Homo sapiens: one gene and its partners. The protein of the gene in region 1 purifies or fractionates together with the protein of each later gene. This does not show direct contact. Each region holds a gene or a part of one and is shown in the gene's direction. Other genes may lie near its edges.

Evidence for each region. Proteins that work in one complex are often made in the same cells at the same time.
Region 2: the proteins of TGOLN2 (region 1) and IPO13 purify together in Homo sapiens (affinity purification with mass spectrometry; 4 studies listed by BioGRID and IntAct, with this or other methods). This does not show direct contact.
Region 3: the proteins of TGOLN2 (region 1) and RAB3A purify together in Homo sapiens (affinity purification with mass spectrometry; 3 studies listed by BioGRID and IntAct, with this or other methods). This does not show direct contact.
Region 4: the proteins of TGOLN2 (region 1) and INTS4 purify together in Homo sapiens (affinity purification with mass spectrometry; 4 studies listed by BioGRID and IntAct, with this or other methods). This does not show direct contact.

The regions. Positions count from the first base shown.
Region 1 is NC_000002.12:85,321,490-85,324,989, reverse strand, and holds part of TGOLN2 (trans-Golgi network integral membrane protein 2 isoform 1 precursor), read left to right. Parts: coding exon 1-75; intron 76-2,190; coding exon of another isoform or gene 2,191-2,248; coding exon 2,249-2,254; coding exon of another isoform or gene 2,255-2,285; 3' UTR 2,286-3,500. UniProt on the Homo sapiens protein: May be involved in regulating membrane traffic to and from trans-Golgi network.
Region 2 is NC_000001.11:43,949,950-43,953,449, forward strand, and holds part of IPO13 (importin-13), read left to right. Parts: coding exon 1-204; intron 205-3,500. UniProt on the Homo sapiens protein: Functions in nuclear protein import as nuclear transport receptor. Serves as receptor for nuclear localization signals (NLS) in cargo substrates.
Region 3 is NC_000019.10:18,196,284-18,198,663, reverse strand, and holds the end of RAB3A (ras-related protein Rab-3A), read left to right. Parts: intron 1-1,003; coding exon 1,004-1,194; 3' UTR 1,195-1,880; downstream 1,881-2,380. UniProt on the Homo sapiens protein: The small GTPases Rab are key regulators of intracellular membrane trafficking, from the formation of transport vesicles to their fusion with membranes.
Region 4 is NC_000011.10:77,879,669-77,883,168, reverse strand, and holds part of INTS4 (integrator complex subunit 4), read left to right. Parts: intron 1-3,500. UniProt on the Homo sapiens protein: Component of the integrator complex, a multiprotein complex that terminates RNA polymerase II (Pol II) transcription in the promoter-proximal region of genes.

The DNA.
Region 1 (3,500 bases):
TTTGTCCTGGAAGGAAAAAGATCTAAAGTCACCCGGCGGCCAAAGGCCAGTGACTACCAACGTTTGGACCAGAAGGTAAGGAAGGAGGAGCCAGGTCCATGGGAGGGATAGGAGGGATAGGCAACGTCAGATGGACCCAGTAGTGGGCTTGCATTTGCCATGAAGCAGCAGTGGCTGATTCTGGGGATGCGGTTGCTGTTGCTGTTGCATTCGCCCTTTTTAGACAACAAACTAGAAACATCTAGATACACATATCTGTGACGTTAGAGCTAGCAGAGACCTTGGAATACTCTACAGCAGCTACCTCCCTTCACAGATGAGGAAATAGGCCCACGCAGAAACACTCTTTTTTTTTTTTTTCCGCTAAGTTTCTACTGCAAGTTAGTGGCAAACTCAGGACCTGATAGCAACTCCCTAGTCTCCCAGTCCTGAGCTTTCTGCATTCTGCCAGCGCTCCATAAACTTTAATAGGCATTTGAATCACCTTGGGGAATTTTGATAAAAAGCATTATCTGATTCATTAGATGTGGGGTGGAGCCTATATTTCTACATTCTTTTTTTTTTTTTTGGAGATGGAGTTTTGCTCTTGTTGCCCAGGCTGGAGTACAATGGTGCAATCTCGGCTCACTACAACCTCTGCTGCCTGGGTTCAAGCGATTCTTCTGCCTCAGCCTCCCGAGTAGCTAGGATTACAGGCGCCACCACCACGTCCAGCTAATTTTGTATTTTTAGTAGAGATGGGTTTCTCCATGTTGGTCAGGCTGGTCTCGAACTCCCAACCTCAGGTGATCCGCCCGCCTCGACCTCCCAAAGTGCTGAGATTACAGGCATAAGCCACCGTGCCTGGCCTGTGTCTACATTCTTAGGAAGTTCCCAGGTGAAACCAAATGCCACTGGATCCACACTTTGTGTGGTAAAGTGCTAGACTGTGCTCCCTGGAAACACGAGCCTGGAAGCACATAGGCCTCCAACTCCCCACATCAGCCTGGCTTAAGCACCGTAGGCTGGAGTTCCTGAGTACAGCCAATCCATTCCTCTGTCAGACAGATAAGCCCTCCTTCCACCCCATGGCAGCAGAGCTAAGCAAGGGTCTCTCTAAAGACAACCTGTCTAAGCAGGAAGACTGTACTCTCACTGCGTTGCTACCAGCATGCACCCTTCCTTCTGCTTTCAGCATAGCAACAGCCAGGACATTGGCAAAGAACCATTGGTGGCCCAACTATGAATTGTTCCCAGACTTCCTGCAGGGAACACGATTCTCTTGCACAACTCAATATTAGCTACAGAACGAGCCACTGAGCTCAGAATATCTTTGCTAACTAGTCCAGTAGGCTAGCTTTACAATTTAGCTCTGGACTACTGCCTTTTCAGATAATTGACTTTAAGGGTTTTCCCCCTTTTATGATTTTTGTTTGTTTGTTTTTGAGACGGAGTCTTGCTGTGTCGTCCAGGCTGGAGTGCAGTGGCACAATCTTGGCTCACTGCAACCTCCACCACCCGGGTTCAAGCAGTTCTCCCTCTTCAGCCTCCCGAGTAGGTGGGATTACAGGCGCCCACCACCACGCCCAGCTAATTTTTAGATTTTTAGTAGAGATGGGGTTTCACCCTTTTGGCCAGGCTGGTCTTGAACTGCTGACCTCAAATGATCCACCCACCTCAGCCTCCCAGAGTGCTGGGATTACAGGCGTGAGCCACCACACATGGCTTATGATTTTTAAAAAAATACACATGTGGCTGGGCATAGTGGTTCACGCCTGTAATCCCAACAGTTTGGGAGGCAGATCACCTGAGGTCAGGAGTTCTAGATCAGTCTGGCCAACATGGTGAAATACCATCTCTACTAAAAATACAAAAATTAGCTGGGCATGGTAATCCCAGCTACTACTGAGGAAGCCGAGGTGGGAGAATCGCTTGAACTTCGGAGGCAGAGGTTGCAGTGAGCCAAGATCATGCCACTGCACTCCAGCCTGGGCAACAGAGCAAGACTCCGTCTCAAAAAAGAAGAAAACCACCACCAACAAAAAACACATGTAAATAATTCACAACAGTACAGAACAGTATGAAGCAGAAGCCAGGATTCCTCTCTCTCCATCAAGTGTATATCTTTCTAGTGTTAGGTTTCATTTCAAACTTTAAAAATCATTTTGTGTGCTATTTTAATTAATTGCTGTTTCTGTGGTGGTGGGTCAGTATGTCTTAATTCTGAATGTTTTCCCTGCACCTCCTAAAAGATCTTTTTTCCCCTAAGTCCTAACAGAATGGTATATTCCTCTGGAAAAAGATGAACGTCACCAATGGATTGTGCTGCTCTCGTTTCAGCTTTGATTTTTTTGTCCTTGAGAACCTTGTCCTCCCTGCTGATTTGTTTCTAAATCAAAAGAAATGAAGAAAAAAGTACTGTGACCTGAGAGACACCCTCCTCTAGAATTTAGTGGCGGGTCTGGGCTGGCAGAGGTAGGGGGCTGCTTTGGGCTTTGCACCTGCACTTTGGTGACATTGTTCTTCTGTGTTCCCTTTATTTATGCTGGTGGCTTCCATCCGTTCCTCCTCTGAGGGTGAGTGGAGGGGTATATGGAAACACGGCTATGACCAAAGGGAGATCCCAGCCTGGGCAGGCTGCGCTGCTGACCACCCTCCCTGGGGCCCGGGCTCTGTAGGAAAGTTGGTCCTTGACTGTGGCATTGCACTCTGCACTGTTTCTCTCTGCAGACCTAGGGGAAAACTGCAGGTGGAAGTGCTTTTCTACTAAGGCCTCTTACTTTGGGGGGGATGTGCCCTACAGAAGACATAGAAGATGGGGAAATGCCAATGGGCAAAGAGCTACTTTGAATACATAATTCTCTTCAAAGACTTCAGCAGCAAACCAAAACAGCAGGTTAAAAAAAAAGATGCTTTTTTGGGTGCAAGTCTAACCTGTCTAGCATGAGATCTTCTTGATTTTCTGATTATTTTATGTAGCTTGAGACAAAGTGAATCAACTTCCACTTAGTTGTACCGAGCATAAAACAGAACTTGGGCTTCCTGGCAGTGAGGCCACTGTCCCATCACAGATTTTTAAAATAAATATGATTTGAAGTAGTGTGATCTTTCACACAATCATACTCAGTAGGAACTTTTTGAAATAGGGCAAGTTTATGTTTCATGCGAGAAAACATGAAGGAGGGTTTTGGTTTTGGTCTGCAGTTTTTCCAAAGGGCTTTTATGAGATACATTTCCCACAAAGTCCATTTTGCCTTTGTTGCCTAAAACAGACAAAATAGACTTAGATTTATTAATAGAAACTATACTCTCTGCCAATTTTACCTCAGTGTATTTAATGGTCCTTTAATCTGATATAAGATGCCAAGGGTATTTGATAAAAATTCTTCTTCCATGCCATGTCAGGAGTTAATACAAATGAAGAAATTCCGTGGGTTCCCCTGGGATAAGTGAGGGTAGTGTCTTGGACAACACTATTGTTTGAAGGTTTATCTTTTCTAATCATGCTCTACCGCATTGTA
Region 2 (3,500 bases), on another chromosome or scaffold:
GCAGCTGCTACAGCAGCCCAGCTCACCCAGCTGTGTGCGTCAGAAGGTGCTCAAGTGTTTCTCCAGCTGGGTGCAGCTGGAGGTGCCGCTGCAGGACTGTGAGGCGCTCATTCAGGCTGCCTTTGCTGCTCTGCAGGACTCGGAGCTCTTCGACAGCAGTGTGGAGGCCATTGTGAATGCCATCTCACAGCCTGATGCCCAGAGGTGAGCTAGTACCCACTCACCCAGAAGACAACCTCTTTGGCCAGCCACACATCCATCCATCCATCTGTTCAATAAACATTAATTGAATGTGTACTGATACCTGGTCCTATGCTGGAGATACAGCAAGGAACCAAAGAAGACATGGTCCCTGTCCTCATGGTTCAGACAGGGAGGCAGACATTAAACAACTAATTATCAGTTATTCAATTAAAATATTTGACTCTCTTTTCCTTCTCTCAACTAGTCACCAAGTCCTGGCTGTTCCCCTCCTGACCATATTGCAAATCTATTTTTTTCCATTTCCATTGCTACCACCTTAGTCCAAGCTGTCATCATCTCTCTCCCCAGATTACTGTAGAGCTTGTCCTCACTCTTGTACCCTTCATTGTCCCAGCAGCCACAGTGATCTTTTGAAAATGGGGATCTAATCTTTCTGATCAGAAGCTTTCAGTGGCTTCTCAATGCTCTTAGGTTAAAGCTCAGAATCCTTAATGTGACTCATAATGGTGCTGCACAGTATGGCATCACTGGCCTCATCTCATGCTACTCTCCTTGCTCTCTACACGCTCACACAGTTTCTTTAATTCCTTGAATGTCCCATGTTCCTTTCAGCCTCTGGCTCATTACATATACTTGACACCTTGCCTCAGCTTAAACTTCATTTCCATAGGGAAGTCCTCCATGGATTCTTAAGGCTAAGTTTGATCTTCTCTCTTATATTACCTCAGAGCTCCCAGTATTTTTCCTTCTTAGCCCATAACATGATTTCTCTCACCTCTGTGAGGACAGGGACTCTGTCATTTTACTTTGTCGCATTGTGCTCGGCACATGGTAGCATTTGATATTTTGTGAATGGAGGAAAGTAGGAGTTGCCTGAGTTGGGAGGGGTGGGGCTGGAAGGGATTGGGGGAGGAAGGTGGATTGTTCTAGGCTTTAGGAACCACAGCATGTGCAAAGACTTGTGGGCAGCATCATGATATATTCAAGGGCCCTAAAGAAGTGAGTGTAGTGAAGTGTTTGGCAAATGTTCATTGAGCATGTCCTGTTTTGGGCCCTGTGCTGAGCTCTGGGAGCACAGAGACAAATGCTTTAGCTTCAGTCTCAGGAGCTCACAGTCTAGTGGACACATGAGTGGCAAGTACAATCAACATGATGAATCCTCTGATGGAGAACGCAGGGGCCTTGAAGAACCCAGAGGAGGCTTTCACTGAGTCTGAGGGCTGTGAAAGGATTCGCAGAGGAAGTGACAACCCAGCTGTGTAAGAGTTAGCCAGATGGAAGTGATGGATGGGGAGGACATTCCAGCCCAAGCAAGGGAAGGGTGAAAGCCCAGAGGGTCTGGTGATCTGTAAATCATTAGATGTGATTAGACAGCAAGATTTAAGGGCCAGAGGTATAGGAGACCTGGGCCCAGATCATGCAGGACCTTGGCCAAGTTTAAGATTTTGATCTTCATCCTGAAGACGATATAAAGATATTAAAGGATTATAAGCAGAGAAAATGGCCTACTGAGACTTTTGGTATGAGCTGGATTAGAAGAAGTGAGACTGGAGGTCCTGATGCTGACATTTCAGAGATGGGGCTTTGGGACCTTTGGCAGAATTGGAAGGGAAAACCATTGAAAGAGACTTCATGGAAGAGTGGCTGATGACTCAAGCCTTGGCATTAGTCACATCTAAGTTTGAATCCCAGATGGTTCACTTATTAGATCTGAAATCTTGGATCAGCCATTCCTAAGGCTCCGTTTCCTCATCAATAAAATGGGGATGATCATATCAACCCCACAGAGTTGAAAAGGTTTAAACAGGATAATGTGCACAAGTCCTGCCCCTGGTGTTCGGTAGAGAATATTTTGACTCCTTGAGTAATGGGAGTTCTTTTGTGGTCTCTGCTAGGGTTGGGATGGTCAGTAGCATGCATTTGTACCTTTGGGTTATTGATACGTTACATGTTTTAAAATGGGAACTGTGTGTATATGTTCTACCTTTATACTTTATGTGATCAGTTAATGGTAATTGTTTATTTATTTATTTTGAGACAGAGTCTCACTCTGTCACCCAGGCTGGTGTGCAGTGGCACAATCTCGGCTCACTGCAACCTCCGCCTCCCGGGTTCAAGCGATTCTCTTGCCTCAGCCTCCAGAATAGCTGGGATTACAGGCGTGCATCACCACGCCCAGCTAATTTTTGTATTTTTAGTAGAAACGGGGTTTTGCCATGTTGGTCAGGCTGGTCTTGAACTCCTAACCTCAGGTGATCCATCTGCCTCCGCCTCCCAAAGTGCTGGGATTACAGGTATGAGCCACCATGCCTGGCCAACTGTTCATTTTTTTAAAGAGAAACATAGTTACTATTAAATGGATTAAGGCTGTTTACTTTTAGTACTGGTCATAAGAAGTAGAACTGGAATCATGCAATAGAAAGTGGGCCTAGTTGTTCAGTGGCTAAATTTGAAAAGGAGTTGGTTTCCTATATATATATGTGTGTGTATACATACATATATTTATATGTATATGATACACACACACACATAGATAATGTGCTTAATCACTGCCTTTTGAAACTTTAAATAAAATATTGGGTTGATTTTAAAAAATAAAAGATTGTTTCGGTATGAGGATTAAATAAGAGAATGTGAAGCTTTTAGCATGGTTCCTATATACTCTGTAAACGGCAGTTGCCAGTATTTGGTTTCATTATTGTGTTGGGAGTTATTATGATACTTATCCCCTGGCTTCCCAGGCTTTCCAGCTTAAGGTGGATACCTAATCCCAGATCTCTTGGCAGCCTGAAGCTCAAGTGCTGGGTGGGCTCTGACAGTTGGTGACTAAGGGAAACAGATCAGGGCAAGTGTGTGGGTGATGTGAGGTGTCCTTGGATACACCCAAGTTTACCCGCCCAGCCAGTCTCAAGGGCTTTGGCAGGTAATTGATGCCCCTTCTCCTCTGAACGAATGAGCGAGCAAGGAGCCAGTGAGGTAACCCACAGCCTCCTTGGTGCCCATTGGCTGCAGCCCCTTGGTTGCTTAGCAACTCTCCCCATTTTCTCAGCTCTGCTCCTGAAGCAAAGCTCTAATTGCAGGTCTGGGCTGAGCTCCGTGTGAGCAGCAGCAGAGGAGTCCCAGCAGCCCTGCCTCGGCTACTTGAACTGACCGATTGGAGCCAGGCCTCTTGAACCCAGCCTCAGCTGTGGTCATAAAGACATCCTCCCTGTCTCCTTCCCCCAAACCTAGAAACCTCTGGGACCTCAGACTTGTTCTTCTGTCCACTCACAGGTCGCAGACACAGGTGCTCAGGT
Region 3 (2,380 bases), on another chromosome or scaffold:
GGCACACACCCAAGGTCTTACAGCTAAAGCCAGGTAATTCACACTTTCTGCAAACTAGCCTTCATCCAGGAGCCATTTGAGTTGGATCCTGAGGGATGTGTAGGAGTTTGCCATGCAGAAAGTTTAAGGATTTATTCTGACACTCACCGTCCAACGCTTTGTTGGGTGTTGCTGGGCTCAAGAGGCATCTAGGGGTGCCTCGAGGGACCCCTGAGGTAGAGGGAGGGACCTGGATGGGAGGAGCACATGAGAGGAGCCAGGCTTCCTGGAGTGGTGGGTAGTGAAGAAGGGTCTTTCAGGCAGAGGAAATAGCTTGGGCAAAGGCTTGCAGTGAGAAAGGTCCTGTGTGTTTTGGTAATAATTTCACAAGACTGGAACATGAGGGTCAGCTGGAGGAAATGTGGCCGATCACAGAGGGCCTCAACCATGTGCTGAGAGGCTGGGACTCTTTGGAGGGCAATAGGGAGTCACAGAGGGTGTGTGAGCAGGGGGAGGTCACAGCTGGATTTGAGTGTCAGAGCCTTCCAGGGCCAGTGCACGGGGCTGGGCTGGACGCTGCAGGGCATGTCTTGCCAGGTCCCTAAGGACAACGAGACACAATTTTAGGAAGGAAGGGCAGGAGGCCAGGTGCGCTGGCTCACACCTATAATCCCAGCAATTTGAGAGGTGGGGGTGGAGGATCACTTGAGCCCAGGAGGTCGAGACTGCAGTGAGCTATGATCACGCCACCATACTCCATCCTGGGCAGCAGAGCAAGGCCCTGTCTCAAAAAAAAAAAAAAAAAAAAAAAGCAGGAAATGCAAAGCTGACCCAGTTCCATGTTGCTTCTCTGTGGGATTTGTCAGTACCTTCAATAAGTTTCTTCTCTGTGGGATTTGTCAGTACCTTCAATAAGTTGCTTGGCACTGGGAATCTCCAGGTGTTCCCTTTCCTCAGAGAAGCATCTCTGGGAGTTGGCATAGGGCGTGGCCAGGGTCCTCATCCCTGCCTTCTCTGACCACAGGGTTCGAGTTCTTTGAGGCAAGCGCCAAGGACAACATTAACGTCAAGCAGACCTTTGAGCGCCTGGTGGATGTCATCTGCGAGAAGATGTCCGAGTCGTTGGACACGGCGGACCCTGCGGTCACAGGCGCCAAGCAGGGCCCACAGCTCAGTGACCAGCAGGTGCCACCGCACCAGGACTGCGCCTGCTGAGAGCCATCCCACTCCCTTTCCCCTCTTCCCTGTCTTCCCCACCTTCCCCCAACTACCCGGGCCTGACCCGGCCCCTACCAGCCACGGGCACAAGACCCCTGCTCCTGACTTAGCCCGTCACCCTTATTTATTATTGTAGCTATTTATTTATTTATTGAAGATGTCCCCCAGGGGCCCAGGCTCCCCTGCCCGCCCCAAGCCCTGCCCCTCCTGTACATATAGCCCTTTCCCCACTCAGCTGTGGTGTCTCGTGGCCCCGTGAACTCACCGCTCACCCTCCTGAACCCCCCCCCCCCGCCTTTTTTTAAAATTCACCCCCATCCACAGTTGTCAGTTGTGAAGAGGGGCCAGATGACACCCTAAAGCAGGCTGATCGGGCAATGGGAGGTGGCCAGGCCTGCCAGCCCCTCGGCTCTGCCGCGGTGGGCCGAGGCCGCTGTTGGGGGTTTCCCTGTGTGGACCATGGGGATCAGAGTCTGGCCTGCCAGGCTCCTCTCCCCGTTTTCTCTTTTGGTGGGGGGGTGTGCTGTGGGTATTCACCACCCTGGGACCCCCCCCCCCCCCGCCCACCAGACCTGTTCTGACCTCATGAGTGTCAAACGTGCCCCCCAGTTCCTTAGGAGATGTCATGACAACACTACACGCACCCAATAAAGCGAATGGACCATCCATGTGTGTCCCTGTGAGCACCGGGTCCTGCCCACCCTGGTTTTGATCATCCACAGCATTTTCTTTTGTTATTTTTATTTTTCAATATAAATAGAGACAGGGTCTTGCTATGTTGCCCAGGCTGGTCTCGAACACCTGGCCTCGAGCAATCCTTCCACCTCAGCCTCGGGAAGGGCTGAGATTACAGGTGGGAGCCACTGCGCCCAGCCAGCAGTTTCAGTTACATTATAGAGAGAGTTTAATGGCATTTCCACAGTTCAGGACCAGGGAAAGAAACACAGAGGCTGCCTGGCCCTATGTGAAACTTTTGGGGGCCGACTCCAGGCCTGAGCCTGCTCTGAGGGGATCAGTCATGTCCCCGCCTTAGTCCCAGGACCTGAGGGAGCTCTGGATTGGTGGCTTGGCCCAGAGCCAGGTGGATGGCAGTGTTGAGGGGCTGGTGCTTGAGACTGGTTGGCAGAGTGGGCCCTGTGCTGAGGATGGGACATCTTGGTCACAGGTCGCATGAGGTTCCTGC
Region 4 (3,500 bases), on another chromosome or scaffold:
TTTAGAGATAGGGAATGCCTTTTGGAATTTTCTTTCACTCTGTGTTTTTAAACACATAATTATAAGGCTATTATTATTATTATTATTATTATTTTGAGACGGAGTCTTGCTCTTGCCCAGGCTGGAGTGCAGTGGTGCAATCTCGGCTCACTGCAACCTCTGTCTGCCTCCTGGGTTCAGGTGCTTCTCCTGTCTCAGCCTCCCGAGTAGCTGGGATTACAGGTGCACGTCACTACACCTGGCTAATTTTTTTGTATTTTAGTAGAGACAGGGTTTCGTCATGTTGGCCAAGCTAGTCTCGAACTCCTGACCTCAGGTGATCCACCCGCCTTGGCCTCCCAAAGTAGTGGGATTACAGGCATGAGCCACTGCGCTGGGCCTTTATTAATGGTTTCCCTCTGTCAGGGTGTTAGATGGGTAATGATGACTTTATGAAGCTGTTGGATGTTAGGGCAGCCCCTTTGGGGTTCTAGTGGTGGTAGGCCTGGTGTAGTTGAGGGAGCATCCAGCAGTTCTGCTACCCAGGACGTGCTTCCCTGAGTATTCCTCATTCCATAATCTGGCTGCCTGGAATGTTTTTGCACTATTTGCCAAACCACTGGCCCCACAGGAAAATAGATTCCTTATTCTAATATCTTCTGCTGAAGGGATCCCGGACATGGGGAAGGAAATGCTGTGGGACAGTATTGTTTTGGGAGGGACAAGGCTCAGGAAAGCAAATTACAGTATGCTGTAGCTCCAAAGATCGTGGAAGGTCTTGAGAGGGTCTGACTTGTCCCTGGTCACACAGCAAGTCATTGCCAAGGCCAGAGTTAGAACTCAGCTGATCTGCCCCCAAGCTCAAGGTTCTTTTTCCTAGGCCCCATTTCCTCTTAAGGTATCCTAGTTCATTGCAGACTTCCTTGTTTTGTATTGCCAGGCGATCCTGAGCCTGAATAATTTTAACTTATACAAGATCACAGCCAGGCCTGGTGGCTTGTACCTGTAATCTTCGGGAGGCTGAGGTGGGAGGATCGATTGAGCCCAAGAGTCTGAGACCAGCATGGGCAATATAGGGCAACCCTATCTCTACAATAGATATATAAAAAAGTTAACTGGGCATGGTGGCATGTGCCTGTAGTCCCAGCTACTCAGGAGGCTGAGGCAGGAAGATTGCTTGAGTCTGGGGGGTCAAGGCTGCAGGGAGCCCTGATCATGCCACTACACTCCAGCCTGGGTAACAGAGCAAGACCCTGACTCAAAAGAAAAAAAAAAAAACCATCAGAAACAAGAAAACAAGATCACCTCCTCTGAATGGTCGCTACCCAGTCACTATTACAAATCCCTGTTTTAATTGTTTATATATAGTGCGTACTGGTTTCAGATGTGTTTTCACATTTAATTACTTACTGACTTTCCCATTAGGATGTAGGCTTCTATAGAGCAGGGAACTTGCTTGTCTTTGCCTCTGTATCTCCATTGTTTTAGTAGCCTGTGTCTCTAGTGCCTGACATGTAGTAGGCACTCAACAAATAATGAAAATTGAATACAAGGTTTTAAATGTGCAATAAAAATTCATTTAATCTTTAGACCAACTCTGCAGTGGAAATTAGTATTCTCTTTTCATTTTACAGATACATAAATGGAGGCCCACATACCTGATCAGTGACAGTGCTAAAGCTGCAGTCACCCTTCCCAGCCCTCACTGTGCTATGTCCCTTCCGGTTTGGGGCACTGAAGTGAAATATGTCTCATTGTAAATGAGCTTGCAGTTTCTTTCTCCTAATCTAGGTGATGGGGCCTGGAGTTTCTAGGGAGCTCCTTCAATCCCTCAGTAGCTCCCCACCAGGGAGGGGCCTCTCCTCTGGGAGGCAGGATGCTGCCACGTAGGAAGCTCAGTCATAGACCATGTTTCAAATTCTGCTTCCTTTGCTGTGTGATCCTGAGAAAGTTATTTTACTTCCCTGTCTCATTAAGATGAGAATAAGAATATAAACCTGCTAGGAGAAATATTCTTCCAGGCATGACGCAGAAGTTGCTTGAGTTATCCTAGATGATCTTGTCTCCTTCTCCCAAGTTCCCCTCCTTCTTGTTTTCTCTCTTCTCCGCTTTACTCCTATGGCATTGCCTTGAATTGCCATTCTTATCAAATGTTGGTAAGGGAATGCAAAATGACCCTGTAGGGCTGAGTCCTACATCAACTCCCTCTGACCTTAGCAGGATTTATTTGTTTTTTTGTTTTTTTGTTTGTTTGTTTGTTTGTTTTGAGACAGGGTTTCCTTCTGTTGCCCAGGCTGGAGTGCAGTGGTGTGATCCTCTCGGGCTCAAGTGGTTCCTCCCACCTCAGTCCCCCTAGTAACTGAGACTATATGCCTGGCTAATTATTTTTATTTTTTGTAGAGACAGGTCTCACTATGTTGCCCAGGCTAGTCTCAAACACCTGGGATCAAGTGATTCTCCTGCCTTGCCCTCCCAAAGTGCTGGGATTATAGGCTTGAGCCTTATCCAGCTCTTACCAGGATTTGGCTTCTTGAAAGTGCTATGCCAACTGGGGCTGTGGTTGTGGTCTGCCACTTGGGATGGAATGGGAGAGTGTGGCAGGAAAGCAGATATAGGTACCTATTTTGATTCCACCCTAAGTGGGAGATTCATCTGGAGCCTGGTATCAGAGAACAGTGTTAGTTTCATGACAGTTACACTCATGGCTGCTGCATGACCCTCATGTTGTCATGTGAGTGTGTGCTTATCACATGGCTGGTACTTGATGATGAGGCTGCACTTAGATCTCATGCTGAAATCTGAGGTGCACTGGATTGCTCTGGCCTTGGGCTGACTGCAAACCTTTCCCTTCCTGGAGGACAGCAATCCAGTCTCTACTCTGACCCATAGAGAGAAGCTTGGATGTAACCAGGAAGAGGTCTGGGGAGGCACTGAGAAGTCCTGGAGTCTCTGCCCTTGTTAATTTAGATCCATCTAGCCTTCATTCCTACCCTCTGAACTTCTTAGCCTTGGGATCATCTTCAACTTACACTTTTTGCTCTGGTTGCACCAAATTAAGGAGACATCCCAAGCTCACTCCATTCCTGGCCTTTGCACTTGCCCTTACATTTTTCTGAAATTCTCTCCCTCTTCTTTATAGAAGCTTGTGGTTAATAGAATGAGTAACTGCTTCAGTTTATGAACTGGGCTCAAATTCTTACCCAGGTGTGCATCTGGGGAGTCTCTGAGAACCTATCTGATTCTTGGGATTTTTGCCAAGATTGTGACAGTCTTTCTTTCATAATGTAGCAGGATAAGAACTCTTGGGGTTAACTGTTTGGCATAGAATGGATATTCTATTCCAAAGCCTTCCTGCGCTCCTCCTCAGTACTTCTTGCAGGCTTGGTTAGAGCGTGTGTTGTACTCCATTGCAACTATCTGTTTCCTCAACCAAACAGCAGGCAACTTGAGGGGAGTTCTTAATTATTCTTGCTAGGACCTGCCACATAGAGACACTAGATGATTATATCGTAAGATAATGT